4 linked regions of the Homo sapiens genome follow. The protein of the gene in region 1 purifies or fractionates together with the protein of each later gene. This does not show direct contact. Each region holds a gene or a part of one and is shown in the gene's direction. Other genes may lie near its edges. The genes, in order: ACTR3B, ARPC1A, ARPC4 and ARPC1B.

Region 1 (7,024 bases):
TAATCTGGAATAATTTCTTAACCTTTTTTTGTCTTTCAAGATGTTGGCATTTTTGACAGCCAGTTGTTACCTAGTGTTTCTCTGTGATAGATACAGGATATGCATATTTGTCAGGACTACCACAGAAGTCCTGTTGATCCTTCTTAGTGCATCCCATCGAAAGGCTTAAGATAGGGACTCGCCTCAGTCTTGATGAAGTTCACTTGGATCATTTGGAGAGGGTGATGTCCACGAGGTTTCTTCACTGTTCAGTTACTATTTTTCTTTGTAATTAATAAGTCATTTGGCTGGGCGCGGTGGCTCATGCCTGTAATCCCAGCACTTTGGGAGGCCGAGGCGGGCGGATCACCTGAGGGCAGGAGTTCGAGACCAACCTGGCCAACATGGTGAAACCCCGTCTCTACTAAAAATACAAAAATTAGCTGGGTGTGGTGGTGCGTGCCTGTAGTCCCAGCTGCTTTGGAGGCTGCTCAGGAGAATCACTTGAATCCGAGAGGCGGAAGTTGCAGTGAGCCGAGATCGGGCCACTGCACTCCAGCCTGGTGACAGAGCGAGACTCCATCTCAAAAAAAAAAAAAAAAAAAAAAAAAAAAAAGTCATTTGTGGGGGAATATTTTATGTAAGTACTCTATTCTTAAACTTTCATCCATTAGTTTAAGTATCCATTGGTGACTCTTGTTTTTTTCTTTTTTTTTGACAGAATCTTGTTCTGTTTCCTAGGCTGGAGTGCAGTGGCACAATCTCTGCTCACTGCAACCTCTGTCTCCCAGGTTCAGGGAATTCTCCTGCTTCAGCCTCATGGGTAGCTGGGATTACAGGCATGAGCCACCATGCCCGGCTAACTTTTTGTATTTTTGGTAGAGACGGGATTTCATCATGTTGCCCAAGCTGGTCTTGAATCCTGATCTCAAGCAATCCACCCGCCTTGGCCTCCCAAAGTGCTGTGATTACAGGCGTGAGCCACTGTGCCTGGCCCATTGGTGATTCTTGCCTGAATTACTAATTATGGTGATGGTTGCAAAATGGTGATTTTTGAACTCTATTATTCTGTCTCCATTTATTAGTTAACATTTTATTTTAAGGAAGAACTTATCCATAGGCCTCATTTGTTTATTGTCTGTATGAGTTGTCGTTCTGTTCAAAGAATGATAATCCATTATGCCGTCCTCATTGTTGTCAGTGGGTTATCTATTGCTTAAATTGTCCCAGATTTTGCCAAGTGAAGCTCATTCAGGCTGACTCCCATGTTCTTTATTTTTTATTTATTTATTTTTTGAGACGGAGTCTTGCTGTGTTGCCCAGGCTGAAGTGCAGTGGTGTGACTTCAGCTCACTACAACCTCTGCCTCCCGGGTTCAAGCGATTCTCCTGCCCCAGCCTCCTGAGTAGCTGGGATTATAGGTGTACACCACCACGCATGGCTGTTTTTTTGTATTTTTAGTAGAGATGGGGTTTTGTCATGTTGGCCAGGCTGGTCTTGAACTCCTAACCTCAGGTGATCTGCCCACCTCTGCCTCCCAAGGTGTTGGGATTACAGGAGTGAGGCACTGCACCTGGCCTTCCATGTTCTTTAGACATGTCTTCATTTTTTGAGCATTCTGGCCAGGCGCAGTGGCTCACACCTGTAGTCCCAGCACTTTGGGAGGCCGAGGATGTGGATCACGACCCGTGGTCAGGAGATCGAGACCATCCTGGCTAACACGGTGAAACCCCGTCTCTACTAAAAAAAAAAAGAAATACAAAAAAATTAGCCGGGCACACTGGTGGGCTAATTTTAGTAGTCCTAGCTACTCAGGAGGCTGAGGCAGGAGGATCGCTTGAACCAGGAGGCGGAGGTTGCAGTGAGCTGAGATCGCGCCACTGCACTCCAGCCTGGCAACAGCGAGACTCCATCTCAAAAAAAAAAAAAAAGAAAAAATAAAGCAAGGATATCTTTTTGTATTTTTTGCCTGAGTATCTGTGGCTTAGATTTTTAGAAATGGGATTTCTGGGTCAAAGGGCAAATGCATATGTAATTTTGCTAGGCAGTGTCAAATTACACTCATTAGTGTGCATTCTCACCAGTAATGTGTGAGGATGCCTGTGTCTTACAGACTCACCAATAGAGCCTATTGCCAATTTGTAAAATTACCAACCTAGAATAAATGATATCTTAATGTCTTTGTTTTGTGTTGCTGTAACAGAATACCACACACCGGGTAATTTATAAAGAAAAGAATAGAATGGTGAAGGTGACAGCAGTTAGTTGGAGTGAGCATCCTCCAAAGTTCTACAGTGTGGCCGAGGACCTTGATTGTACATTGTTCTTTATTTTACTTATTTATTTTTATTTTTGTTTTGAGACTGGGTCTTACCCTGGCCCTTTTTTTTTTTTTTTTTTTTTTCCGGAGACAGAGTTTTGCTTTCATTGTTCAGGCTGGAGTAGAATGGCGCGATCTTGGCTCACCACAACCTCCGCCTCCCGGGTTCAAGTGATTCTCCTGCCTCAGCCTCCCAAGTAGCTGGGATTACAGGCATGCGCCACTATGCCCGGCTAATTTTGTATTTTTAATAGAGACGGGGTTTCTCCATGTTGGTCAGGCCAGTCTTGAACTCCTGACCTCAGGTGATCTGCCTGCCTGGGCCTCCCAAAGTGCTGAGATTACAGCCATGAGCCACTGCGCCTGGCTTTTTTTTTTTTTTTTTAAATAGTCATTCCACATATTGTGAGATGCATTGTTACAGGAAGTCCCTTGCCCTCCCAAAAGCCACCCCACTTCTCTCAGGAGAACGGCCCAGTTCTCTCCTGAGTCCACAAAGGGGAGGTTACAGGATTGCTTTCATGTAAATTATGTAATGCAACATTTAAAAAAATCTTCACCTTAATACTTTTTGTTTTATTTTGAATAATCAGCTATCATGGTCCCCATTTTTGTCCCTACCTTGAGATGTATGAAGGCTTTTGGTCTCCCTGGGAGTGGGTGGAAGTGTGGAGGCATCCAGGGCATACCTGTACACTGACTTGAGACCAGTTCAGTAAAAGTGCACACCTTAAAAAAAGAAAAAAAAAAGTTTATTTGGCTCACAGTTCTGGAGGCTGCAGAGTCTTAGAGCATGGTGCCAGCATCTAATGAGGCCCTGCGTGCTGTGTCATCCCATGGCGGAAGAAGGAAGGGCAAGAGTGGGTGAGATTGTGAGCACGAGAGAAGGCTGAACTTCATATTTTAACAACCCACTTTCATGATTATGATAATCTTCGCATTTATTTTTTTCGGTCTCTTCATTTCTCTAACTTTTCTCTGGGGTTTTGGTCTTTTGCTTCTTCATTTTTAGAAGCTCTTCATGTATTAAGGTCTGTTCAGGGGTTCCGCAGACCACTCCCAGTTCCAGTGACTTGCTAGGAGGAATCAGGACTACGGTGAAAATGTACAAAGCAAAAACAGCCAAGGGAAAAGATGTGGGGTGGAGCCTAGAGGAAACCGGGGCAAGCTTCCCGAGTCCTCACCCAGTGCAGCCGTGCAGGATGCAGTTAATTCCTCCAGCATCAGGCTGTGACAACACGTGTGCAATGCTCCGTACCAGGGAAGCTCCTCAGAGACACAGGGCCCAAGGTTTTCACTGGGGACTTGTCATGCAGGCACCCTGTGCATAGCACGTGCCGGAATTCCAGAGTCCCAGAAGGAAAGCAAGGCATTGGCATAAACCACGTTGTTTGCCACTCTAGGAGCAGTGAACTACTTTTAGCATTTAGGGAATGGTGGGAACGCCTGAACTCCAAGATCCTAGATACCAATTAAAGGCCATTCCTCCAAGCAGGACTTTCTAAGAGACAGCAGTCTCAGGCCCATTAACTTTCTTCTGCACATAGAGAATATTAACCCTTAATGATATACGTTGCAAATATATTTCCCCTATTTATCATTTGTCTTTTACCATGCAAAGTTTGTTTTCTTTAGGCAATCGGATTTATTCATCTTTTCTTTATTGTTTCTAGATTTTGAGTCATAGTTAAGAAAGGTTTTTTTCATTCCCAGATTACATGGTGGTTTCTTTTCTTCTTTTTCTTTTCTGTTTTTTTGAGACAGAGTCTCACTCTGTTGCCCATGCTAGAGTGCGGCGGCACAGTCTCCACTCAGTGCAACCTCCACCTCCTGGGTTCAAGCGATTCTCCTGCTGCAGCCTCCCGAGTAGCTGGGACTACAGGTGCATGCCACCACATCGGGCTAATTTTTGTATTTTTAGTAGAGAAGGGGGTTTTACCATATTGGTCAGGCTGATCTCAAACTCCTGACCTCAGGTGATCCACCTGCCTCGGCCTCCCAAAGTGCTGGGATTATAGATGTGAGCCACTGTGCCCAGCTGGTAGGTTTTTTTTTTTTTTTTAATGGTTTCATTTTTTTCATTTAAATCTCTAATTCATTTGGAATTTATCCTGAGATAAGGTATGAAGAATGGACCCAGTTGGATCCACTTTTGTGTGTGTGTGGCTATGGCTGTCCTGTTTATCTCAACATAATTTATGGAAAAAACCCAATGACTGGAGATGCTGCCTTTATCATATGCTGCATTTGTCTATGCAATTGTGTTTCTTTCTGGATTTTGTATTGTGTTGAGTTAGTCTATTGGTCTGTTCATAATAGCAGCACCACACAGTTTTAATTAGGCTCTTTAGAATGATTTCATTTCTAATGGTGCCGGCTTCCCCTGCCCATCTAATTCCTTTTTAGGGCTTTCCCATGTATTTTCGATTGTTGTTCCTCCAAGTGATCTTTGTAATCAGTTTCTCTAGTTCTGGGAGAGAAAGCCTGATGGCATTTTTATTGGGATTTTATTAAACTTAAAAATTAATTTAATGAGCATCATTATCTGTATAATACTGAGTCTTCCCATCAAAGAACATGGTTTATCTCTCCATTAGTTCAAGTCTATTTTGTGTCTTTTAGGAATATTGTGGTGTTTCTGCAGGTAGATTTCTTGTTAACTTTATGTATTTGATTTTTTTTTGCTATCATAAATGGTGCCTTCTCTTCCATTTTATCTTGTTTTTCTTGAATATATGAAGATTGTTAGTTTTTTCATTCCTAGATTACATGGTGGTTTTTCATGGTAGTTACTCATTTTATAACGTGCTGCTTTACAGAATGCTCATATTATTTGTATAAATTTTTCCCTTGATCCCTAGGGATTTTCAGATATAAAAACTTGTCATTGGGCCTGGCGCAGTGGCTCACACCTGTAATTGCAAGCACTTTGCGAGGCCGAAGCAGGCAGATCACTTGAGGCCAGGAATTTGAGACCAGCTTGGCCAACATGGCAAAACCCTGTCTCTTCTAAAAATACAAAAAAATTAGCTGGGCGTGGTGGCACACGCCTGTAATCCCAGCTACATGGGAGGTTGAGGCAGGAGACTCGTTTGAACCTGGGAGGCGGAGGTTGCAGTGAGCTGAGATTGAGCCACTGTACTCCAGCCTGGGCAACAGAGCCAGACGCTGTCTCAAAAATAAAAACCAAAACCTGTTATTGGCAAAAGAGATTGTTTTACCTCTTCCTTTCCATTTTTAGGGACTCTTAACTGCTTTTTTATTGACACAGTGCAGAGGCCATTACCTCCAAAGCAATGTTAATTTAAATCAGAGTGGAGTTAGTGGGCATTATTATTTTATTCCTGATTTTAGTGGGATAGTTCTGGTGTTTGTTTGTTTGTTTGTTTGTTTTCACTTATTGTGGCCTAAGAGGGTTTGCGAATGTTCTTTGTATTCATTTTTTTGAGTCAGAGTTTCACTCTTGTTGCCCAGGCTGGAGTGCAATGGAGCGATCTCGGCTCACTGCAACCTCCACCTCCTGGATTCAAGCAATTCTCCTGCCTCAGCCTCTCAAGTAGCTGCAATTACAGGCGCCCGCCATCACGCCCAGCTAATTTTTTATATTTAGTAGAGACGGGGTTCCACCATGTTGGCCAGGCTGGTCTCGAACCCCTGACCTCAGGTGAGCCACCCACCTTGGCCCCTCAAAGTGCTGGGATTACAGGCATGAGCCACCGCGCCTGGCTAGGAGATACAATCTTTATAAGTTCTGAGTTTAATGTGTCTATATGAACTACCTTATTAATTATGTTATTTAGGGCTTCCAATTTTTTTTTTTAATTGAGACCGAGTCTCCTTCTGTCGTACAGGCTGGAGTGCAGTGGCGTGATGTCGGCTCACTGCAACCTCCACCTCCTGGGTTCAGGCAGTTCTTTGCCTCAGCCTCCCGAGGAGCTGGGATTATAGGCACCCGCCACCATGCCTGGCTAATTTTTGTGTTTTTAGTAGAGACGGGGTTTCTCCATGTTGGCTAGGCTGGTCTCGAACTCCTGACCTCAGGTGATCCACCCGCCTCTGCCTCCTAAAGTGCTGGGATTACAGGGGTGAGCCACCATGTCTGGGCTCACATTTTTGTGTGTGTGTGTACCTAGTCTGTCATGGACTGAGAATGGCATACTAAGGCCTCCTATTGTTAGTAACCTATTAAGGTCTCCTCGCATTTTCTGTGGGTTCTGCTTTATGAAAGTTGTTGCTGCCATATTGGTTATCTAGATAGAAATAACTTGTCTCTTCACTAGAGTTGTTGATTTAGCATATCAAGTAGCCTTCTAATTGTTTTCTCAGCCGAGTTGTACTTTGTCAGATATCAAGATGTGTGATCCCTGCTTGCTTCTCCTTGTGTTTGTCTGATATAGATATATATATATTTCTCCATCCTTTTATTATTCTTTCTGAATTGTCTGTACCCAAAATATTGTTTTGCTTTTTAGTCAATATGAAAATGTTGCCTTTTGTTGGATGACTTAAGCTCATTTATACTCATAGATAGGTGATTTAAGCATATTTATATGTATTGATATGATTGATATATTTGGCCTCAGTTTTGCAATATTTACATATATATGTATTTAAACATCTTTTGCCATGTAGTCCATTTTATTTTATTAATATCTTTTTTGGTGCACTTTAGGGCAGACTGTATTTTTGTCTAATTGTTATCATTATATATAGTCCTTTTATTTG
Region 2 (7,024 bases), about 53 Mb from region 1:
AGACTCCATCTCAAAAAAAAGAAAGAAAAAAAGAAAGATTGTCCCTTCCATTATAAAATGTAGTCTTTCAGAAGATTTCCCTACATAAACAGGCACTTATATATCTTTTCATTTTTAACAGAAATAAGATTATTTTATACATTTTTATATACATTTGGTAATTTGCCTTTTAATACTTGATAATACTTTTGTATTTTGATGCCAGTGTTACTTGATTTTTATATGGTTTATTGTGACACAGTAAGTTCTTAGCATACACTTATTACAAGTCCCTGTCTACCCTCGTACTGACTTCTTTCCCTTTTCCAGTCCTGCAAGTCAGATTACATGCTCCACCTTTCCACTCCTCCAACATAAATATCTCATGTAGTAAAAGTCAGGTATACCGCACTAAGGGCTTAAGATGACACATTAGTTCTTCAATTCAATGCCAACTTTATGAAGGGTGTCCTGAGACATATACAGTTAGCTTTTTTTTATTTTTTAATTTAGAGAGACACTCTCTGTCGCCCAGGCTGGAACTCCTGAGCTCAAGTTCTCCTCCCACCTCAGCCTCTCAAGCAGCTGGAGCCACAGACGTGCACCACCACTCTAGGCTAATTTTTTTTTTTTTTTAATTTTTCGTAGAGACTGGGTCTCACTATGTTGTCCAGGCTGATCTCAAACTCCTGCCTCCAGCAATCCTTCCACCTCAGCCCCTCAAAGTGCTGAGATTACAGGTGTGAGCCACCATGCCCAGCCACAGTCAGCTTTTGAATGCATCGTTTCTTGCATGAAGTGAGGTGCTCCTAACTCATCAGCCAGTGTGTCTGCCTGCCATATCTGTGTAATCTCTTTGCCACATTCAAGAGCAAATAACTACATGCACACACATGTCCCTGCAGGCACACATACACACACATGGCCCATTCGAGTGTGAGCTCCTGGCTAAGACCGTTTGGTTCATCTTGGTAGCTCTAGCTCCTAACACAGTGCCTGGCCGTCAGCACAGATCTGTGTGGTCACAGCCCTCTCGGAGCTCCGGTGAGCACAGGCAAGGAGAAGGTCCTAGCACAGGTGTCTGCTGCCAAGTCATAGTAACAGGAAGAGCTCTAGGAGCTAAGAGCAGGGAGAAGCCACTTTAGGCGGAAGTGGCCCGGGAAAGTGGACCGTGGGATCATGGGGGTGATCCCTTTAGAGCTGTGCTGGGGGTGGAAGGGCGTGATGCAAAGACTGGGCTTTGGGAACCAGTTTGTCGTCAGTGGGCAGGGCCTCAGAAGGAGGCAGAGCCGGAACCCAGGGCTGCCCCTGTCTTGAGAGGCCTGCAAGTTGAGGTCAGGGGCTCCTTTTCAACATAAGTGCCCATTGATACTGCAGAAGCCCCTGTGAGAATGGGTCCTTTGTGATCATCTGTGTCTGTAAAGAAGCTAATAGTCTGTTGCATCTTGGGATAACACATGTTCTTGTGTTCAGGGTCTCGACTCTGAAGACAGAGTTCCTGCCGCTCCTAAGTGTGTCATTTGTCTCAGAGAACAGCGTCGTGGCTGCTGTGAGTATTTTTCTTCATTCTCCCTCGGGGTGCACTGTATGTGATGCTCAGACAGGGAACAATGTGTGCTCTGTCACCCTAGCACAAAGCAGAACAGTTTTTTAGAAGAAACAGAGCTCACTTTTTTTTTTTTTTTTTTTTTTGAGATGGAGTTTTGCTCTTGTTGCCCAGGCTGGAGTGCAATGGGTGATCTTGACTCACCGCAACCTCTGCCTCCCGGGTTCAAGCGATTCTCCCGCCTCAGCCTCTCGAGGAACTGGGAATATAGGCATGCGCCACCATACCTGGCTAATTTTGTATTTTTAGAAGAGACGGGGTTTCTCCATGTTGGTCAGGCCGGTCTCGAACTCCCATCCTCAGGTGATCCACCCACCTTGGCCTCCCAAAGTGCGGGCATGAGCCACCGTGCCCGGCCTCAGAGGTCACTTTTTTTTTGGAGACTGTCTTGCTCTGTCGCCCAGGCTGGAGGGCAGTGGCGCAATTTTGGCTCACTGCAAGCTCCGCCTCCCGGGTTCACGCCATTCTCCTGCCTCAGCGTCCTGAGTAGCTGGGACTACAGGCGCCCGCCACCTCGCCGGGCTAATTTTTTTTATTTTTAGTAGAGATGGGGTTTCACCATGTTAGCCAGGATGGTCTCAATCTCCTGACCTCGTGATCCGCCCACCTTGGCCTCCTAAAGTGCTGGGATTACAGGTGTGAGCCACCGTGCCCGGCCGCTCACTTTTAAGAGTAAGAGGGGGTGGGGCACGATGGCTCACGCCTGTAGTCCCAGCACTTTGGGAGGCCAAGGCGGGTGGTTCACTTGAGGTCAGGAGTTCAAGACCAGCCTGGCCAACATGGTGAAACCCCGTCTCTACTAAAAACACAAAAATTAGCCAGGCATGGTGGCAGACGCCTGTAATCCCAGCTACTTGGGAGGCTGAGGCAGGAGAATTACTTGAACCCGGGAAGCAGAGGTTGTGGTGACCTGAGATTGTGCCACTGCACTCTAGCCAGGGCAACAGAGCAAGACTCGGTCTCAAAAAAAAAAAAAAAAAAGAGTAAGAGAGGCCTGTCGTGGTGAACACTCTGCCAAGGAGGTGGGCGGTGGGCAGTGCATCCTCCAGGGACTGACTGAGTCTTGTTTCAGGGCCATGACTGCTGCCCAATGCTCTTTAACTACGATGACCGCGGCTGCCTGACCTTCGTCTCCAAGTTAGATATTCCAAAACAGAGCATCCAACGCAACATGTCTGCCATGGAACGCTTCCGCAACATGGACAAGAGAGCCACAACTGAGGACCGCAACACGGCCTTGGAGACGCTGCACCAGAATAGCATCACGTAGGTGCCGTCTGTAGAGAGGTGGTCAGGTGACAAGGTGCCTTCCTGCCCCTCGCTGTTTCCTTACTGGGTTCCTACAAAAGCTCTATGCCCCTCAGGCCCAGACATTCTTTCAGGGACAAGTGCAGCAAGAAGTCTGTATCTTCCCGACCGCCAGGCTCTCATTTCCAGCTCGTGGTAGGGAGGGAGTCGCCACCACCTGGTCATTCTGTCCTTCAAGGTGCAGATTACAAGGCAGCAGCCAGCAGGAGCAGTGCAGACCTTGTTGCAATCTGAGGTGGTGGGGCCTCAGGGCAGCTGCTTCCTAGGGTACCCTTTCTCAGCTACTCGAGAACAAAAGGAGACATTCCTGAATGCTGCGTTCCCACAGTAGTGCACACATAACAGAAAGCGAAGTTACAGCCTGTTGGAAAAGGTAACTGTAGCTGTCGTTTCAAGTAATGGATACAAATAAGAAGATTATTTAATTAAAGGAACAGAATTTCTTATCATCATGATGACAAAGCTGAGGAGTGTCTCGACTGGGTTTTCATCAGGTATATGTAATTATGTAAGACAACAGAATTGTGTTTTGTCCAGAAAGTTTAATTTTTTTTTTTTTTTTTGAGACAGAGTCTCACTCTGTTGCCCAGGCTGGAGTGCAATGCCACAATCTCGGCTCACTGCAACCTCTGCCTCCCGGGTTCAAGCAATTCTCCTGCCTCAGCTTCCCAAGAAGCTGGGATTACAGGCGTGTGCCACCACACCTGGCTAATTTTTTGTATTTTTAGTAGAGACGGAGTTTCACCCTGTTGGCCATCCTGGTTTCAAACTCCTGACCTCAGGTGATCCAACCACCTCAGCCTCCCAAATTGCTGGAATTACAGGCGTAAGCTACCGTGCCTGGCCTGAAAGTTTGATTTTTAAGGTCTAGAGGAGAGGCTGGGCATGATGGCTTACACCTTTAATCCCAGCACTTTGGGAGGCTGAGGCAGGCAGATCACTTGAGGTCAGGAGTTCGAGACCAGCCTTGCCAACATGGCAAAACCCCATCTCTACTAAAAAATACAAAAATTAGCTTGGCATGGTGGTACACACCTGTAATCCCAGCTACTCGGCAGGCTGAGGCAGGAGAATTGCTTGAACCGGGCAGGTGGAGGTTGCAGTGAGCCAAGATTGAGCTACTGCACTCCCGCCTGGGTGACAGAGTGAGACTCCGTCTCAAAAAAAAAAAAAAAAAAAGGCACCTGGAGGAGAAATATATGCTTGATATTCTAAATTACTGTGTTCAGAGTTGGGTCCCATGGGATTTTCCCTTACTGAGAAGCCTTTTATGTTTAGAATCTTATTGTGGTATTGATGGTGGGAGAAGTAATGGAAACCTCTAGACTTCCTGTTTGAGAGAATTACAATGAAATGCAGGTTGTGCTTCATCTTCAGCGGAGAAGGGGCAGCTGTATATAAAATAGGCTGCAAATGCTGTATTGAAAAATGAGAACCAGAGACCTGGCACCATGTCTCACACCTGTAATGCTAGCGTTTTGGGAAGCCAAGGCAGGAGGATCACTTGAGGCCAGCAGTTCAATACCATCCTGGGCAACACAGCAAGACCCCATCTCTACAAAAAAATTTTTAAGTTAGCTGGCTGTGTTGGCACGCACCTGTAGTCCCAGCTACTTGGGAGGAGTGAGCTGTGATTGTGCCACTGTACTTCAGCCTGGGCTACATTGTGAGATCCTATCTCAAAAAAAAAAAAAAAAAAGAACCTGAAGGCATAGCAAAACTTACCTTTTCTCCACATTCTTCAGGTTTCTCCTTCTATAGCAAAACTCACCTTTTCTCCATTCTTTAGGTTTCTCTGTCTTGAATGGCTCCGAGTTACTTCTTGTGAGTTTCTCTTACGTTTCTATACAGACCAAGTGTTAAGGAAAGAAAAAGCTCTCATTGCCTCTCTGACACTTCTAGATGAAAAATGAAAAGAACAAACCCTTGCTGATTAGTCTACTTTTATTTGCAGAAATTAGGTGCTCTTTGCACTAGAACTGTGTCAGCTAACTTTTTCTGTAAAGGACCAGATAGTAAATATTTTAGACTCCTAGAGGCCATAGGTCTCTGTTGCAACTACTGAACTCTGGTTGTGGCAGGAAAGCAGGCACAGATGATGTAAACAGATGAGGTGGCTGTGTTCCCGTCAAACTTTATGGACACTCAAATTTGAATTTCATGTAATTTTCACTTCATGAAATAATAGTCTCCTTTTAATTTTTTTCCAGCTATTTAAAAACGTAAAAGCCGGGTCAGGTGCAGAGGCTCACGCCTGTAATCCCAGCACTTTGGGAGGCTGGGGTGGGCGGATCACTTGAGGTCAGGTGGTCAAGACCAGCCTGACCAACATGGCAAAACCCCGTCTCTATTAAAAATACAAAAATTCGCCAGCCTGGTGGCAGGTGCTTGTAATCCCAGCTACTCGGGAGTCTGAGGCAGGAGAATCGCTTGAACCTGGGAGGTAGAGGTTGCAGTGAGCCGAGATCGCACCACTGCACTCCAGCCTGAGTGACAGAGTGAGACTCCATCTCAATAAATAAATAAATAAAATAAAAATGTAAAACCCCGCCCCCCTTTTTTTTTTTTTTTTTGAGATGGAGTCTCTGTCACCCAGGCTGGAGTGCAGTGGCACGATCTTGGCTTACTGCAAGCTCTGCCTCCTGGGTTCACGCCCTTCTCCTGCCTCAGCCTCCCAAGTAGCTGGGACTACAGGCGCCCGCCACCATGCCTGGCTAATTTTTTTTTTTTTTTTGTATCTTTTAGTAGAGACAGAGTTTCACTGTGTTAGTCAGGATGGTCTCGATCTCCTGACCTCGTGATCTGCCCACCTCGGCCTCCCAGAGTGCTGGGATTACAGGCGTGAGCCACTGCACCTGGCCTTTGTTGTTTTTTTTTTTTATTTAAGCTCACAGGCTGTACGGGCATAGGCAGTGTGTGCCATAGTTTGCCATCCCCTTCCCAGCGTCGGGGAAGAGGCGGGTAAGTTCTAGACATCTCAAAGGAGAAAGAAAAATATTGTCTGAGCAATGGATGATTGTCTTGAAAGCTTCCAGATAATTAGGCTAAGACAAGTTGTTTCATTTATCTGTTCCCCTGCTTAGCTTGGTCGGAATCTAGTGGTGTGTCTGCTGCTAACATTTATGATGATTCACTTCAGACTCAAGGAGGGCTGTTGGCTTATCTGCACTGGCTGTCTTGGAGGCTGATTTGAGAGGTTTTGTTTGGAGCTATGGAATTCAGTCATGCTTCATCATGCCTCTGGTTTATTTAAAAACAAACAAAAATACTGTTTTCGCCATGGCTGTGGTCCTACCCACAACCTGCTCCCAGCATTTGAGTGCTGTGTGGGCTGGGTCATTCCTGCTTCCCCAGGTCACGCTAACCAAGGCAAGTTCTTAACTTCTCCCCTTGCCAGTTTTGTCTTTCCTGGACATCTGGTAATAATATGCTTTGGGGTATTTTCTGAGCCAGATTGTTGCAGCCTAATGTTCATGGATAAGTTCATAATCAGGAGTTAAAAGATAATTCATTTCCTGGTGGAGCGTGGTGGCTTATGCCTGTAATCCCAGCATTTTGGGAGACTGAGGCAGGAGGATCACTTGAGCCCAGGAGTTCAAGACCAGCTTGGGCAACATAATGAGACCCGCATCCCAGCTCTATTTAAAAAATAAAGAAGAAGATAATTCATTTCCTTAAGCTGCCCTTACACTATTAGTCAGGAATGTTTGTGTTCACTTCCACTACATACCTTACGATCTCTTTTGCTTTGCTTTTTTTCAGTCAAGTCTCTATTTATGAGGTGGACAAGCAAGATTGTCGCAAATTTTGCACTACTGGCATCGATGGAGCCATGACAATTTGGGATTTCAAGGTATTTTCTACCTAACAGAACAAATTTTGTTTGTGTTAAAACTTTTTTTTTTTTTTTTAAGAGATAGGCTCCTTCTCTGTCACCCAGGTTGGAGTAAGTGGCACAATCATGGCTCACTGCAGCCACCAACTCCTTGCCTCCAGCAGCCCTCCCACCTCAGCCTCCCAAGCTGCTGGGACAGCAGGCATGCACCACCATGCTCCGTGAATATTTTTACAAAACTCTTATGAGAAGAATGTTTCTCATTTCTTGAAACAAAATGTTAAATCTAGTATACA
Region 3 (7,024 bases), on another chromosome or scaffold:
CTGGACAACAGAGTAAGACTCTGTCTCAAAAAAAAATAAAAAAGGCCAGGCACGTTGGCTCACGCCTGTAATCCCAACACTTTGAGAGGCCGAGGTGGGCGGATTGCCTGAGGTCAGGATTTCAAGACAAGCCTGACCAACACGGTGAAACTCCGTCTCTACTAAAAATACAAAAATTAGCCAGGCATGGTGATGTGCGCCTGTAATCCCAGCTACTCGGGAGGCTGAAGCAGGAGAATCGCTTTAACCCAGGAGGCGGCGATTGCCGTGAGCAGAGATCGTGCCACTGCACTCCAGCGAGGGTGACAGAAGCGAGACTCCCTCTCAAAAATAAATATTAAGAAGACATGAAAGACATTTTTTTGTCAATTGTAATAAATACTTTATAGGGGGATGTCAAGGTCTCTCTCAAGAGGCCTTCCTTAATTAAGCTGAGATCTGGAGGATGACTTAGGCAAAGAAAGAGGAGAAAAGCCTACAGATAGATGGTCAAGCATGTGTAAAGCTCTGAGGTGGGAAAGAATTTGGCTGATACAAGGACTGACCAGTGCAGCTAGAAGCTAATCCCTCTCCTAAGAATGTCCTTATTCTGGCAGGGTGTGGTGGCTCACGCCTGTAAACCCAGCACTTTGGGAGGCCAAGGCGGGCAGATTACAAGGTCAGGAGATTGAGACCATCCTGGCTAACACCGTGAAACCCTGTCTCTACTAAAAATACAAAAAGTTAGCCGGGTGTGGTGGTGGGCGCCTGTAGTCCCAGCTACTTGGGAGGCTGAGGCAGGAGAAGGGCATGAACCCGGGAGGTGGAGCTTGCAGTGAGCCGAGATCGTGCCACCGCGCTCCAGCCTGGGCAACAGAGCGAGACTCTGTCTCAAAAAAAAAAAAAAAAAAAGAATGTCCTTATTCTCCTTTTTCTCCTCCTAATCCCATTTCACCTTCAAAACCAGTTTCTTCTGCAAATATAGATTACTTGTAAATCTAAATATTTCACATGTCATCTTTATATCATAGTTATTTTCTGTATATTTGCTATCCAGTTGAGCTGTTTGAGGGTAGAGACAGTGTTAATCATCTTTGAATTCCCAGTTAGCTCAGTGCGTGGCAAACAGTACACCTATACATTTGTTGGCCTAATAGATTGACGACAATCATGCATTCACTGGTGTGTCTCTAGATCACTTTCTCAACCTTAGCACTATTGATATTTGAGTCTCGATAATTCTTTGTAGTGCATTGTAGTATGTTTAGTGGATATCTGTCCACTGAATGCCTGCAGTTCCCCTTCTTGCCAAGTCATGACAATTGAAAATGTCTCAGCATTCCTCTGGTCTGACCCCAGGTTAAAAAAGAAAGAAAGGAAATGTCTCGACATTACCAAATGTACCCTGGCAGGCAAAATTGTCTCCTGTTGAAAACTACCACTCTACACCTTGGAAGGCGTCTCGAAGGCCTAGTCTGTTCTGTTCACAGTAGTGTCTTAAGAGCCTTGCACCCTCAGTGCTACCTGGCTTCATGGGAGCTGGAATAGGGGATCGGTGGGTTTGGCGTGACAGATTTTGATCTTCCCTTTCCTCTGTGTTATTTCCTATAGACTGCCACTCTCCGCCCCTACCTGAGTGCCGTGCGGGCCACATTGCAGGCTGCCCTCTGCCTGGAGAACTTCTCCTCCCAGGTTGTGGAACGACACAACAAGCCGGAAGTGGAAGTCAGGTAGGGAAGGACAAGTCAAGGTGGGGATGAGGGGTGCAGCACACAGAGATGGCTGCTGTCTAGAAGGTGCCATGAACTTATGTCCTGCAGTAGTCAGGAAAGCTGCAGTTGACATTTTGTCTTGCTGCCAGCTGAATGGTGATTCCCAATTTGGAGTTAAGAAAATAGGGTCAGTGGGTTGGCAGGACAGAACCCAGGGGAAAAGACAAGATTGGTTAACACAAGGTATGACTTCTCAGAGCAGGGCTGTTGATGAAGTCTCTCCTGTGGCATTGTTGAAAACACTGGTAGTTTAAGGAATGGTCAGATAATTGTTATCTGAGATTCCATCTCCATACTTTTCTTTTTTTTTTTTTTTTTTCCCATCTCCATACTTTTCTAATGTAATGATCAGGGATTTTTTTTTTACCTACCAGCCTAGACACTCTGACCCCCTAATCCAAATACTTCATATTTTGAATGATTTTCTCTTATCTAGTTTCCATTTCATAAATATCTTTTTCCCCTTTAAAATTTAATCTGGAGGCCTGGTGCAGTGGTTCACCCCTGTAATCCGAGCACTTTAGGAGGCTGAAGTGGGTAGATCGCTTGAGTACAGGAGTTCAAGACCAGCCTGGGCAACATGGCAAGACTCCATCTCTACCAAAAAAATATGCAAAAATAGTCAGGCATGGTGGCACATGCCTGTAGTCCCACTTCTCTGGAGGCTGAGGCAGGAGGATCTCTTGAGCCTGGGAAGCAGAGGTTGCAATGAGCCAACATTGCGACAGTGCACTCCAGCCTGGGTGAGACCCTGTCTCAAAAAATAAGTAAATAGGCCGGGCACAGTGGCTCACGCCTGTAATCCCAGCACTTTGGGAGGCCGAGGCAGACAGATTATGAGGTCAAGAGATCGAGAGCATCCTGGCCAACATGGTGAAACCTTGTCTCTACTAAAAATACAAAAATAAGCTGGGCATGGTGGTATGCACCTGTAGTCCCAGCTACTCGGGAGGCTGAGGCAGGAGAATTGCTTGAACCTGGGAGGCGGAGGTTGCAGTGAGCCAAGATCGTGCCACCGCACTCCAGCCTGGCAGCAGAGCAAGACTTCGTCTCAAAAATAAAATAAAATAAAATAAAATAAAATAAAATTCATTCTGGTACATACATAACTGAGATAATCTGGGTTACAACATTAAATGATACGATTTAATTTTTAATTTTAAAAATAACTGATAAAGATGTTAGGATATGCCCTGTTATACTGTGTAACGTACACGATTTCCAGTGGGCCTTTGAAAATGGTTAGCAGTTTAGAGACACCACACCACAATTAATTACTATTAGAGATCTCTAGGTATTCAGAGGCATTACTTTGTAACCTGAACTCATAGGGGTCTCAGAGGCAAATGAATCATTTCTGGATTGATAATTAAAGGAAGCCAAACTGTGTTCAATTTTAGCCTTTCCTTACCTCTAAGACAGGTGTTCTCTCTGTATTCCTAAATGGTATATTGGTTTGCCTGTACAGGTTGAGTATCTCTTATCCAAAATGCTTGGGACCAAAAGTATTTCAGATTGTGGAATATTTGCAGATACTTAACCAGTTGAGCATCCCTAATTCCAAATCCAAAATGCTCCAATGAGGATCTCCTTTGAGCATCTTGTCAGCACTCGGAAACTTTCAGGTTTTTTTTTTTTTTTGAGATGGAGTTTGATTCTGTCACCCAGGCTGGAGTACAGTGGTATGATCTTGGCTCACTGCAACTGCCACCTCCTGAGTTCGAGCAATTCTCGTGCTTCAGCCTCCTGAGTATCTGGGATTATAGGAGTGCGCCACCATGCCCAGCTAATTTTTATATTTTTAGTACAAATGGGATATCACCATGTTGGCCAGGCTGGTCTCGAACTCCTGACCTCAGGTGATCCACCAGCCTCAGCCTCTCAAAGTGCTGGGATTACAGGCATGAGCCACTGTGCCCAGCCAGTTTCAGATTTTGGATTTCAGATTTGCAGATTGGGGATGTTCAACTTGTAGTTACTAAAATAGCTATCTTTTGTAAAGCTCCTACTATGTGCCAGGCACGCTATTAGACATTTGACCCTTTTTGATCTCTCTCAGTCCTCGCCAGTGAATTAGGAATCAGAGTCATTTTACAGATGAGAAAATTGAGATTCCAACAGGGTAACTTGCCCAAGGAAAGTAACAGAGGAGGCTGGATTTCAAAACCTTTTCGCCCTGACTTCAGAGCCTGTGCTCTTTCTGCTGAAGAACACACTCACTGGCCCCCATCTTGGAGCACTCCTGCTTGTGAGTCTTCTATTCCTTGGACTCTATGGTCTCATAGTGATTCCAGGACCTGCGTGGGGTCACTCTGACTATTCTATCCCTCTGTAGTACAAGTACTCTGTCACATTATGTTTTCAGGAGTAGCAAAGAGCTCCTGTTACAACCTGTGACCATCAGCAGGAATGAGAAGGAAAAGGTTCTGATTGAGGGCTCCATCAACTCTGTCCGGGTCAGCATTGCTGTGAAACAGGTAAGTTCACCATGGAGGAGGCCCAACGTAAGGCCTCTTTCAGTCCTTTCAGCCTCTTTCAGTCCGGGGTCCCCATCTGAGAGATCAGTGTGCCAGATTCCAGATTCAGAGTGCAGGAAACCTAGCCTCTGCTTCCTTTTTTTTTGACACGGATTCTCACTCTTGTCGCCCAGGCTGGAGTGCAGCAGCATGATCTCAGCTCACTGCAACCTCTGCCTCCCGGGTTCAAGCAGTTCTTCTGTCTCAGTCTCCCAAGTAGCTGGGATTACAGGCATCCGCCACCACGCCCAGTTAATTTTTGTATTTTTAGTAGAGACAGAGTTTCACCATGTTTGCCAGGATGGTCTCCATCTCCTGACCGCAGGTGATGGGCCCGCCTCAACCTCCCAAAGTACTGGGATTACAGTCATGAGCCACCATGCCTGGCCAGTAGAGGGCAACTCTAAACTTTCAACAGGATGAAAACGAAGCACTGTTATTAAATGCAGACTACACACTGTTTTCTACAGAAACTTATAAACCTGGGGCCTGCTTTCCTTGCTAAAATGGGAGGTTAACAAGTGTTGAGAGGTGTTAAGGGCATGCTAGCAACCAGCAGCAATAATCTTCCTTTAGAAATGTTGAGAGTTCAGGGCCAGGCACAGTGGCTCATGCCTGTAATCCCAGCACTTTGGGAGACCAAGGCGGGTGGATCACTTGATGTCAGGAGTTCAAGACCAGCCTGGCCAACATGGTAAAACCCTGTCTCTACTAAAAATACAGAAATTAGCCAGGCGTGGTGGCACGCGCCTGTAATCCCAGCTACTTGGGAGGCTGAGGCAGGAGAATCGCTTGAACCCGGGAGGCAGAGCTTACAGTGAGTCAAAATCGTACCACTGCACTCCAGCCTGGGTGACAGAGCGAGATTCCATCTCAGAAAAAAAAAAAAAAAAAAAAAAAAAGAAATGTTGAGCATTCAGAAGGGAGAAACTTCAGGGATTGTTGGATGTTCAGTGTTATTAAAGCAGAGACCACCTAAGGTTATCTCTGATAGCCCAGGTGATGCTGCAAAACACCCTGGGAAATGTGACACTAGTGAAATGAGAATGGAAAGGGCAGCTTGGAGTACAGCTGTAGACTCTGAAAGAAGCAATAGAAGCCTGTCAGAATTACCTCTCTGGAATGGGTCGTCATTAAGAGATGCCCCAAGGTAGACCCTTGTTTCAGTTGACAGCCAGGTCCCCCACTTCAGTGATCCTTCCGAGTACCAAACCTCACTGTCTCCTGGGAGCCTTGAAAAAACTGGAGTCAGAAGACCAGGCTACAAGGTGTTTTTGGCCTTGGGTGTCAGCTTTAGAGAAACATTTCTCTCTTGCACTCCCCAGGCTGATGAGATCGAGAAGATTTTGTGCCACAAGTTCATGCGCTTCATGATGATGCGAGCAGAGAACTTCTTTATCCTTCGAAGGAAGCCTGTGGAGGTGAGACCCTGTGACCCATGAGTTTGCGATACCCAGGACCCTGTTACAGAATGGCCTGGGATTGTTTCTAGAACCAGCTACTCCAGCTGTTTGGCACCCACTGCCTGAATTGAGAGTTGGCCTTCATCTTGGAGTGGGAGCAAAGAGGATTAGAAGCTTAGGAAAAGTTGGGTCTACCTCAGCCATAGAAAAGGCAAAAAAGAGCCGGGCGTGGTGGCTCATGCCTCTAATCCCAACACTTTGGGAGGCCGAGGTGGGTGGATCATGAGGTCAGGAGTTCAAGACCAGCCTGGCCAACATGGTGAAACCCCATCTCTATTAAAAATACAAAAATTAGCTGGGCATGGTGGTGGGCGCCTGTAATCCTAGCTACTCAGGAGGCTGAGGCAGAGAACTGGTTGAACCTGGGAGGCGGAGGTTGTAGTGAGCCAAGATCGTGCCACTGTACTGCAGCCTGGGCGACAGAGCAAGACTCCGTCTCAAAAAAAAAAAAAAAAAAAAAAAAGGCAAAAAAGATAAGACACATTGCTTATTCCCGGAGCCTATAGTCTAGCATCAGAAAGAGCACAGTGAATTAGAAATCCTTTCTAAGATCTGCCAAATGAATCATAGTCTCTCTCTCTTTTTTTTTTTCTTTGAGACGGAGTCTCGCTCTGTCGCCCAGGCTGGAGTGCAGTGGCACAATCTTGGCTCACTGCAAGCTCCGCCTCCCGGGTTCACGCCATTCTCCTGCCTCAGCCTCCTGAGTAGCTGGGACTACAGGCGCCCACCACCACACCTGGCTAATTTTTTGTATTTTTAGTAGAGACGGGGTTTCACCATGTTAGCCAGGATGGTCTCGATCTCCTGACCTCGTGATCTGCCTGCCTCGGCCTCCCAAAGTGCTGGGATTACAGGCTTGAGCCACCGCGCCTGGCCTTTTTTTTTCTTTTTTTGAGATGGAGTTTTGCTTTTGTTGCCCAGGCTGGAGTGCAGTGGCGCAGTCTCACTGACTGCAACCTTCCACCTCCCAGGTCAAGTGATTCTCCTGCCTCAGCCTCCCGAGTAGCTGGGATTATAGGCACGCATGTGCTACCATGCCCAGCTAATTTTGTATTTTTAGTAGTTTCATTGTGTTGGCTAGGCGGTCTCAAACTCCTGACCTCAGGTGATCCGCCTGCCTCGGCCTCCCAAAGTGAATCATAGTCTGCAATCTGGGCTCACTGCAAGCTCCGCCTCCTGGGTTCACGCCATTCTTCTGCCTCAGCCTCCCGAGTAGCTGGGACTACAGGTGCCCGCCACCATTCCCGGCTAATTTTTTGTATTTTTAGTAGAGACGGGGTTTCACTGTGTTAGC
Region 4 (7,024 bases), about 53 Mb from region 1:
GCCCCTGCAGACCGGCCACCTCCCTTCTCCCCGTCTGAGCAGTGTGGGGGAAGACCAGGGCTCTGGGCACGGCAGGGCCAACTGCCATGTGCTGGACACCTTTCTAGGTGGTTTATGAGATTACTTCATTTCTTTTTTTTTTTTTTTTTTCTGAGATGAGTCTTGCTCTGTCACCCAGCCTCCTGAGTAGTGGGGATTACAGGCAGGTGCCACCACACCTGGCTAATTTTTTTTTTTTTTTTTTTTTTTTTTTTTGAGACGGAGTCTCACTCTGTCGCCCAGGCTGGAGTGCAGTGGTGCGATCTCGGCTTACTGCAAGCCCCGCCTCCCAAGTTCACGCCATTCTCCTGCCTCAGGCTGGGACTACAGGTGCCCGCCACCACACCCGACTAATTTTTTGTAGTTTTAGTAAAGACGGAGTTTCACCATGTTGGCCAGGCTGGTCTTGAACTCCTGGCCGCAAGTGATCCGCCTGCCTCGATCTCCCAAAGTGTTGGGATTACAGGCATGAGCCACCGGGCCTGGCCTGGATGACTTCATCTTCATCCCATCCTTAATGGGGCAGGGGAAGTTGGGTGGGGGGGGGGGGGTCGTCCATCCTATGAGGAAACCGAGGCACAGATGACAAGTGAGGGGCCTGTCCAGCTTGGAGTCCTAGCACCCCACCCCGCCCCAGGGAGCATCTCCCCTGTAGTACCGTCTCCTCCACCCTGTCCCTGGAGCCTCAGAGACATCCTGTGAAAGCTGCCCTTTTATAAGGAGGGAAACTGAGGCCCCAGGAGGGGAAGCAACATGTCAGGCCAGTTGGGAGCCAGGGCTGGCCCCTGCTGCTCCTCTCTGCAAACTGCTGCCCCTCTAAACTGAGGGGCCTCCCTGGTGTGAGGCCTGTGAGGATCATCTGGGGCCTGGTATGGGTGAAGTCAGGGGCAAGGTTGGGGCTGACGTGGATTCTCTCTTCCTCTCTCGGGCACAGGAGCCAAGCCGCCATGGCCTACCACAGCTTCCTGGTGGAGCCCATCAGCTGCCACGCCTGGAACAAGGACCGCACCCGTGAGTGCTTGCTGGGGGCCGGTGGGTGGCTGCTTCCACCTCCTGGGATGGGGACCAGCCAGAGCACACATGGGGACTCTGGAGCAGCCAGGCCCCCGGACCATGGGCTCCATGTGGCTGTCCCCTGGCCTCACCCCTGGGTCTTCCAGCTGACCAGGGGCCTCCTGGGTTAAAGTTTAAGGAGGGAATGGGCCAGTTGCGGTAGCTCATGCCTGTAATCCCGGCACTTTGGGAGGCTGAGGTGGGTGGATCACTTGAGGTCAGGAGTTCCAGACCAGCTTGGGCAACATGGTGAAACCCTGTCTCTACTAAAAATACAAAAATTACCTGGGCGTGGTGGTGGGTGTCTGTAATCCCAGCTACTCGGGGGGCTGAGGCACGAGAATTGCTTGAACCCAGGAGGCGGAGGTTGCAGTGAGTCGAGATTGCACCACTGCACTCCAGCCTGGGCAACAAAGCGAGACTCTGTCTCAAAAAAAAAAAAAGAGAGAAAGAAAGAAAGAAAAAGTGACCAAGAAAAAGCCTTTCGGAGGAGATGACATTTTGACATTTACCCAGAGACCCAGAGGGGGAGAGGAAGGGAACTGTGCCCCAGCTGGGGAGGGGCTGGCAGGTGCAGGGGCCCTGAGGTGTCAGCAGGAGCAGCGAAGGGTTCCTGGTTGGCCAGAGCAATAGGGTGGGGAGAGGTCCCAGGGTTCATTGCTGCGAGTAAAGGACAGCCAGTTCCAGGAGAAGACAGGGTGGCCTAGCAGGGCCTGAAGGACTTCAGGGGGCCCCTGCAAGGCAGAAGAGGAGAGACTGAGTCATGAAAGGTGAGGTGTTGTTGCCTAGGTGCACTGTGTAGTGTGTCCTGGCAGAGGGCAGTCATGGAGAGGGCCCCTCAATCTCCCTCCATCTCCCCTTCAGAGATTGCCATCTGCCCCAACAACCATGAGGTGCATATCTATGAAAAGAGCGGTGCCAAATGGACCAAGGTGCACGAGCTCAAGGAGCACAACGGGCAGGTGACAGGTATGTCAGGGTGGCTGGGACCACCGTCCTGAAAGGAGGTGGTGGGTTGGGGGGGTGGTGCAAGGCAGGGCATGGCCACTCATTGTGGAGCATCTGCCCACTCACCGTGAAACCCGGATTCAAACTGGCTTCAATTTTAAGGGGACTGTGTTGGCTCATGTTACCAAAAACTCACAGGGTTGAGGGCTTCAGGAGAGGCTTGATCCAGCAGCTCCACATGACCAAGAACCCATCTTTTCTGCCTCTTGGCTTTGCCCTCCAGCATGTTTGCTGATAGCATGGAGGGCTCTGACACTCCCTCATAAGCTCTAGGAGTGCCCCCTGGTGTCACTCTAAATAAGCACTGGATCTCAGTAAAAAGTGCTTGCTGGGCCGGGTGCAGTGGCTCATGCCTGTAATCCCAGCACTTCAGGAGGCCAAGGCGAGTGGATCGCTTGAGGTCAGGAGTTCGAGACCATCCTGGCCAACATGACTAAATGTTGAAAAATACAGAAATTAGCCGGGTGTGGTGGCACGCACCTGTAGTCCCAGATACTCTGGAGGCTGAGGCAGAAGAATCGCTTGAACCCAGGAGGCGGAGGTTGAAGTGAGCTGAGATTGCACCACTGCACTCCAGCCTGGATGGCAGAGCGAGACTGTGTCGCAATAAAAACAAAGAAAGAAAGAGGCCGGGTGCGGTGGCTTGCGCCTGTACTCCCAGCACTTTGGGAGGCGGAGGCGGGCGGATCACCTGAGGTCAGGAGTTCAAGACCAGCCTGGTCAACATGGTGAAACCTCATCTCTACTAAAATACAAAAATTAGCCAGGCATGATGGCGGGTGCCTGTAATCCCAGCTACTTGGGAGGCTGATATGTGAGAATTGCTTGAACCCGGAAGATGGTGGTTCCAGTGAGCTGAGATCGTGCCAGTGCACTCCAGCTTGGGCGGCTGAGCGAGACTCTGTCTCAAAAAAAAAAAAAAAAAAAAAAGATTGGTGGTACACACCTGTAGTCCCGGCTACTCAGGAGGCTGAGGCACGAGGATTGCTTGAACCTGGGAGGCAGAGGCTGCAGTGAGCTGAGATCATGCCACTGCACTCCAGCCTGGGTGACAGAGCGAGACTCTGTTTCAAAAAAAAAAAAAAGTGCCTGCTGGGCAGATACAGCTTCCACCTGGATGGTGGCCTTTCAGCCTCTCCCATGTGGCCACCATACAGCCACCTCTGCCTGAGTGTCATCAGCCTCCTGTGTTCCCTCCATCCCCCCACAGGCATCGACTGGGCCCCCGAGAGTAACCGTATTGTGACCTGCGGCACAGACCGCAACGCCTACGTGTGGACGCTGAAGGGCCGCACATGGAAGCCCACGCTGGTCATCCTGCGGATCAACCGGGCTGCCCGCTGCGTGCGCTGGGCCCCCAACGAGAACAAGTTTGCTGTGGGCAGCGGCTCTCGTGTGATCTCCATCTGTTATTTCGAGCAGGAGAATGACTGGTGGGTACCTAGGCAGGGCCAGAGTGGGCTGTTAGGGACCGGGGGCAGGACTAGAGTGTCCCCGGGAAGCACCAAATGGGATGTCAGGACCCCTGTTCCCATCACCCTGGGGGAGTCCATCCTCTCCTCTCTGGGCCTCATTCATGAGGCAAGGGCCTCTCTGCAGCGTCCGGATGTTCTCACTGCCAGTGACACCCACCACACCAGAAACACATCTGGGGGCACCTCACTAAGCCCTGCACACACATTAGTCCTGACTTCCCTGCAGCTCCGTGGACTGGGCATCGGTCACTGTCCCCACTTTACAGATTAGCAAAGGCCCTGTAGCAGTCACTTTCTCAAGGCACCACTCACGAGCTCGCAGCCACATCTTGTTCCTTTTTTTTTTTTCAGATGGAGTCTCACTCTGTCACCCAGGCTGGAGTGCAGTGGCACGATCTTGGCTCACGGCAGCCTCTGCCTGCCGGGTTCGAGCAGTTCTCTGCCTCAGCCTCCCAAGTAGCTGGGATTACAGGCACCTGCTACCATGCCCGGATAATTTTTATATTTTTAGTAGAGATGGGGTTTCACCATCTTGGCCAGGTTGGTCTAGAACTTCTGACCTCATGATCCACCCGCCTCGGCCTCCCAAAGTGTTGGGATTACAGGCGTGAGCCACCGTGCCCAGCCAATTTTTTTTTTTTTTTTTTTTTTGAGACACAGTCTTGCTCTGTCGTCCAGGCTGGAGTGCAGTGGCACAATCTCAGCTCACCGCAACCTCTGCCTCCCAGGTTCAAGCAATTCTCCTGCCTCAGCCTACTGAGTAGCTGGGACTACAGGCACGCACCACCACGCCAGGCTAATTTTGTATTTTTTAGTAGAGATGGGGTTTCTCCATGTTGGTCAGGCTGGTCTTGAACTCCTGACCTCAGGTGGTCCTCCTGCCTCCGCCTCCCAAAGTGCTGGGATTACAGGCGTGAACCACTGCGCCCGGCCATATATATATTTTTGAGACAAGGTCTTGCTCTGTCGCTCAGGCTGGAGTGCAGTGTTGTGATCATAGCTCACTGCAGCCTCAGCCTCCTGAGCTCAAGTAATCCTACCACTTCAGCCTCCTGAGTAGCTCGGACTACAGGCCCAAATCATTTATTTATTTATTTTGTAGAGATAGGGTCTTGTCACGTTGTCCAGGCTGGTCTTGAACTCCTGGCCTCAAGCAATCTTCCCACCTCAGCCTCCCAAAGTGCTGAGACTACAGGTGTGAGCCATGATTGCCAGTCCACGTCTTAGTTTTTAATCTCCCCTGCATGGCTGAGGGCAGAGGCCAGCCAGGAGCATCTGAGAGACCCAAATTTGCATCCCACCATGGCCAGTTAGTAGTTGTGTGACCTCTGGTGATGGCATCACTTTGCTGAGCCTGCTCTGAGGGTGACTGTGTGGCCTAAAGGATAGAGGGCACAGAGTTCCCACTCCAGAAGCGACACAGCACATCCCTGCCGCCCCAGGGCCCTGACGGCCTTGTGGGCTGGCAATGCCCAGTCGCCTCTCTCCTGGGTCTTTGGTGGGCTGCAGGGAGCAGTGGGAGCCTGGAGTCCCTGGTGCTGAGGTCCATGAGTCCCACCTGCCTGTCCCTCTCTCCCTGTCTGCCTGACCACCGTTCCCAGGTGGGTTTGCAAGCACATCAAGAAGCCCATCCGCTCCACCGTCCTCAGCCTGGACTGGCACCCCAACAATGTGCTGCTGGCTGCCGGCTCCTGTGACTTCAAGTGTCGGTGAGACAGGGCGCCATGGGGGAGGGCGGGGCTGACGTCAACTGACTGCTGACATCATAGCGGGGAGCCGCACCTGAAAGCTCTACACCCCAGCTTCTAGACACATTCCAGACCTGCTACCAGTGGATGACCTGGGCGTCGGTTGAAGGTTCTAGTTCCTGGGGAACCCTTCATGTCTCAGCTGGATGGGCCTCTGCCCACCTCTTTTATTTTTTTTGAGCTAGGGGCTTGCTCTGTTGCCCGGGCTGGAATGCAGTAGTGCAATCATAGCTCACTGCAGCCTCCAAATCCTGGACTCAAGCGATCCTCTTGCTTCTCAGCCTCCCAAGCAAGACTACCACGCCCAGCTAGACAGGATTTTTTTTTTTTTTTTGGAGACGGACTCTCGCTCTTTCGCCCAGGCTGGAGTGCAGTGGCGTGATATTGACTCACTGCAACCTCCGCCTGCTGAGTTCAAGCGATCAAGCGATTCTCCTGCCTTAGCCTCCTGAGTAGCTGGAACTACAGGCGCATGCCACCATGCCCGGCTAATTTTTGTATTTTTAAATGTAGAGACGGGTTTTCACCATGTTGGCCAGACTGGTCTCGAACCCCTGACTTCAAGTGATGCATCTGCCTCAGCCTCCCAAAGTGCTGGGATTACAAGCTTCAGCCACCATGCCCAGGCACCTGTTAACCCTTTAAAAAAAATTTTTTTTTTTTTTTGAGACAGTCTCACTCTGTTGCCCAAACTGGAGCACAGTAGCGCAATCACAGCTCACTGCAGCCTTGACCTCCTGGGTTCAAGCAATCCTCCCGCCTCAGCCTCCTGAGTAGCTGAGAGTACAGGTGCGCACCACCATGCCTGGCTACTTTACCTCTACTTTGCCTATCCCGGTAGGATCTTTTCAGCCTACATCAAGGAGGTGGAGGAACGGCCGGCACCCACCCCGTGGGGCTCCAAGATGCCCTTTGGGGAACTGATGTTCGAATCCAGCAGTAGCTGCGGCTGGGTACATGGCGTCTGTTTCTCAGCCAGCGGGAGCCGCGTGGCCTGGGTAAGCCACGACAGCACCGTCTGCCTGGCTGATGCCGACAAGAAGATGGCGTGAGTCGAGGCCATCCCCAGGGGAGGAGGTGAGTGCAGAGGAGTGGGACACCGTGACTCACAGCTCTCTCCCCTCAGCGTCGCGACTCTGGCCTCTGAAACACTACCACTGCTGGCGCTGACCTTCATCACAGACAACAGCCTGGTGGCAGCGGTGAGGAATAGGGAGGGGAGGGAGGGTGTGTGGTCACAGCAGGCCTCCGAGAGAGCCCAGCAACTCTCATCTCCTCCCTCCTTTCTCCTGCCTCCCTCCTTTTTTTCTTCCTTGCATTCTCTCATGTACCAGAATTGGGCAGAACAGGTTGGGTTATGCTGCAGTAACCAAAAGTCCCTGGCTGCAGTTGCTTAACAGAGTAAAGATTTGGCCAGGTGCGGTGGCTCACACTTAAAATCCCAGCACTTTGCGAGGTTGAGGTGGAAGTATCACTGGAGGCCACGAGTTTGAGACCAGCCCGGGCAACACAGTGTGAGACCCTTGTCTCTACAAAAAGTTAAGAAATTAGCTGGGTGTGGTGGTGCACCTGTAATCTCATAATCCCAGTTACTTGGGAGGCTGAGGCAGGAGGATAACTTAAGCATGGGAGGTCGAGGCTTCTGAACTGAGCTATGGTCGTACCTCTGCACTTCAGCCTCGGCGACACAAAACCTGTCTC

What was found.
Region 2: the proteins of ACTR3B (region 1) and ARPC1A purify together in Homo sapiens (affinity purification with mass spectrometry; 7 studies listed by BioGRID and IntAct, with this or other methods). This does not show direct contact.
Region 3: the proteins of ACTR3B (region 1) and ARPC4 purify together in Homo sapiens (affinity purification with mass spectrometry; 6 studies listed by BioGRID and IntAct, with this or other methods). This does not show direct contact.
Region 4: the proteins of ACTR3B (region 1) and ARPC1B purify together in Homo sapiens (affinity purification with mass spectrometry; 7 studies listed by BioGRID and IntAct, with this or other methods). This does not show direct contact.

The regions. Positions count from the first base shown.
Region 1 is NC_000007.14:152,762,749-152,769,772, forward strand, and holds part of ACTR3B (actin-related protein 3B), read left to right. Parts: intron 1-7,024. UniProt on the Homo sapiens protein: Plays a role in the organization of the actin cytoskeleton.
Region 2 is NC_000007.14:99,356,888-99,363,911, forward strand, and holds part of ARPC1A (actin-related protein 2/3 complex subunit 1A), read left to right. Parts: intron 1-1,452; coding exon 1,453-1,528; intron 1,529-2,657; coding exon 2,658-2,851; intron 2,852-6,655; coding exon 6,656-6,746; intron 6,747-7,024. UniProt on the Homo sapiens protein: Probably functions as a component of the Arp2/3 complex which is involved in regulation of actin polymerization and together with an activating nucleation-promoting factor (NPF) mediates the formation of branched actin networks.
Region 3 is NC_000003.12:9,796,069-9,803,092, forward strand, and holds part of ARPC4 (actin-related protein 2/3 complex subunit 4), read left to right. Parts: intron 1-1,590; coding exon 1,591-1,709; intron 1,710-4,116; coding exon 4,117-4,228; intron 4,229-5,592; coding exon 5,593-5,688; intron 5,689-7,024. Other genes in the region: ARPC4-TTLL3 fusion protein, read left to right, coding at 1,591-1,709, 4,117-4,228, 5,593-5,688. UniProt on the Homo sapiens protein: Actin-binding component of the Arp2/3 complex, a multiprotein complex that mediates actin polymerization upon stimulation by nucleation-promoting factor (NPF).
Region 4 is NC_000007.14:99,384,729-99,391,752, forward strand, and holds part of ARPC1B (actin-related protein 2/3 complex subunit 1B), read left to right. Parts: intron 1-973; 5' UTR 974-986; coding exon 987-1,050; intron 1,051-1,956; coding exon 1,957-2,061; intron 2,062-3,310; coding exon 3,311-3,533; intron 3,534-5,176; coding exon 5,177-5,284; intron 5,285-6,164; coding exon 6,165-6,371; intron 6,372-6,449; coding exon 6,450-6,525; intron 6,526-7,024. UniProt on the Homo sapiens protein: Component of the Arp2/3 complex, a multiprotein complex that mediates actin polymerization upon stimulation by nucleation-promoting factor (NPF).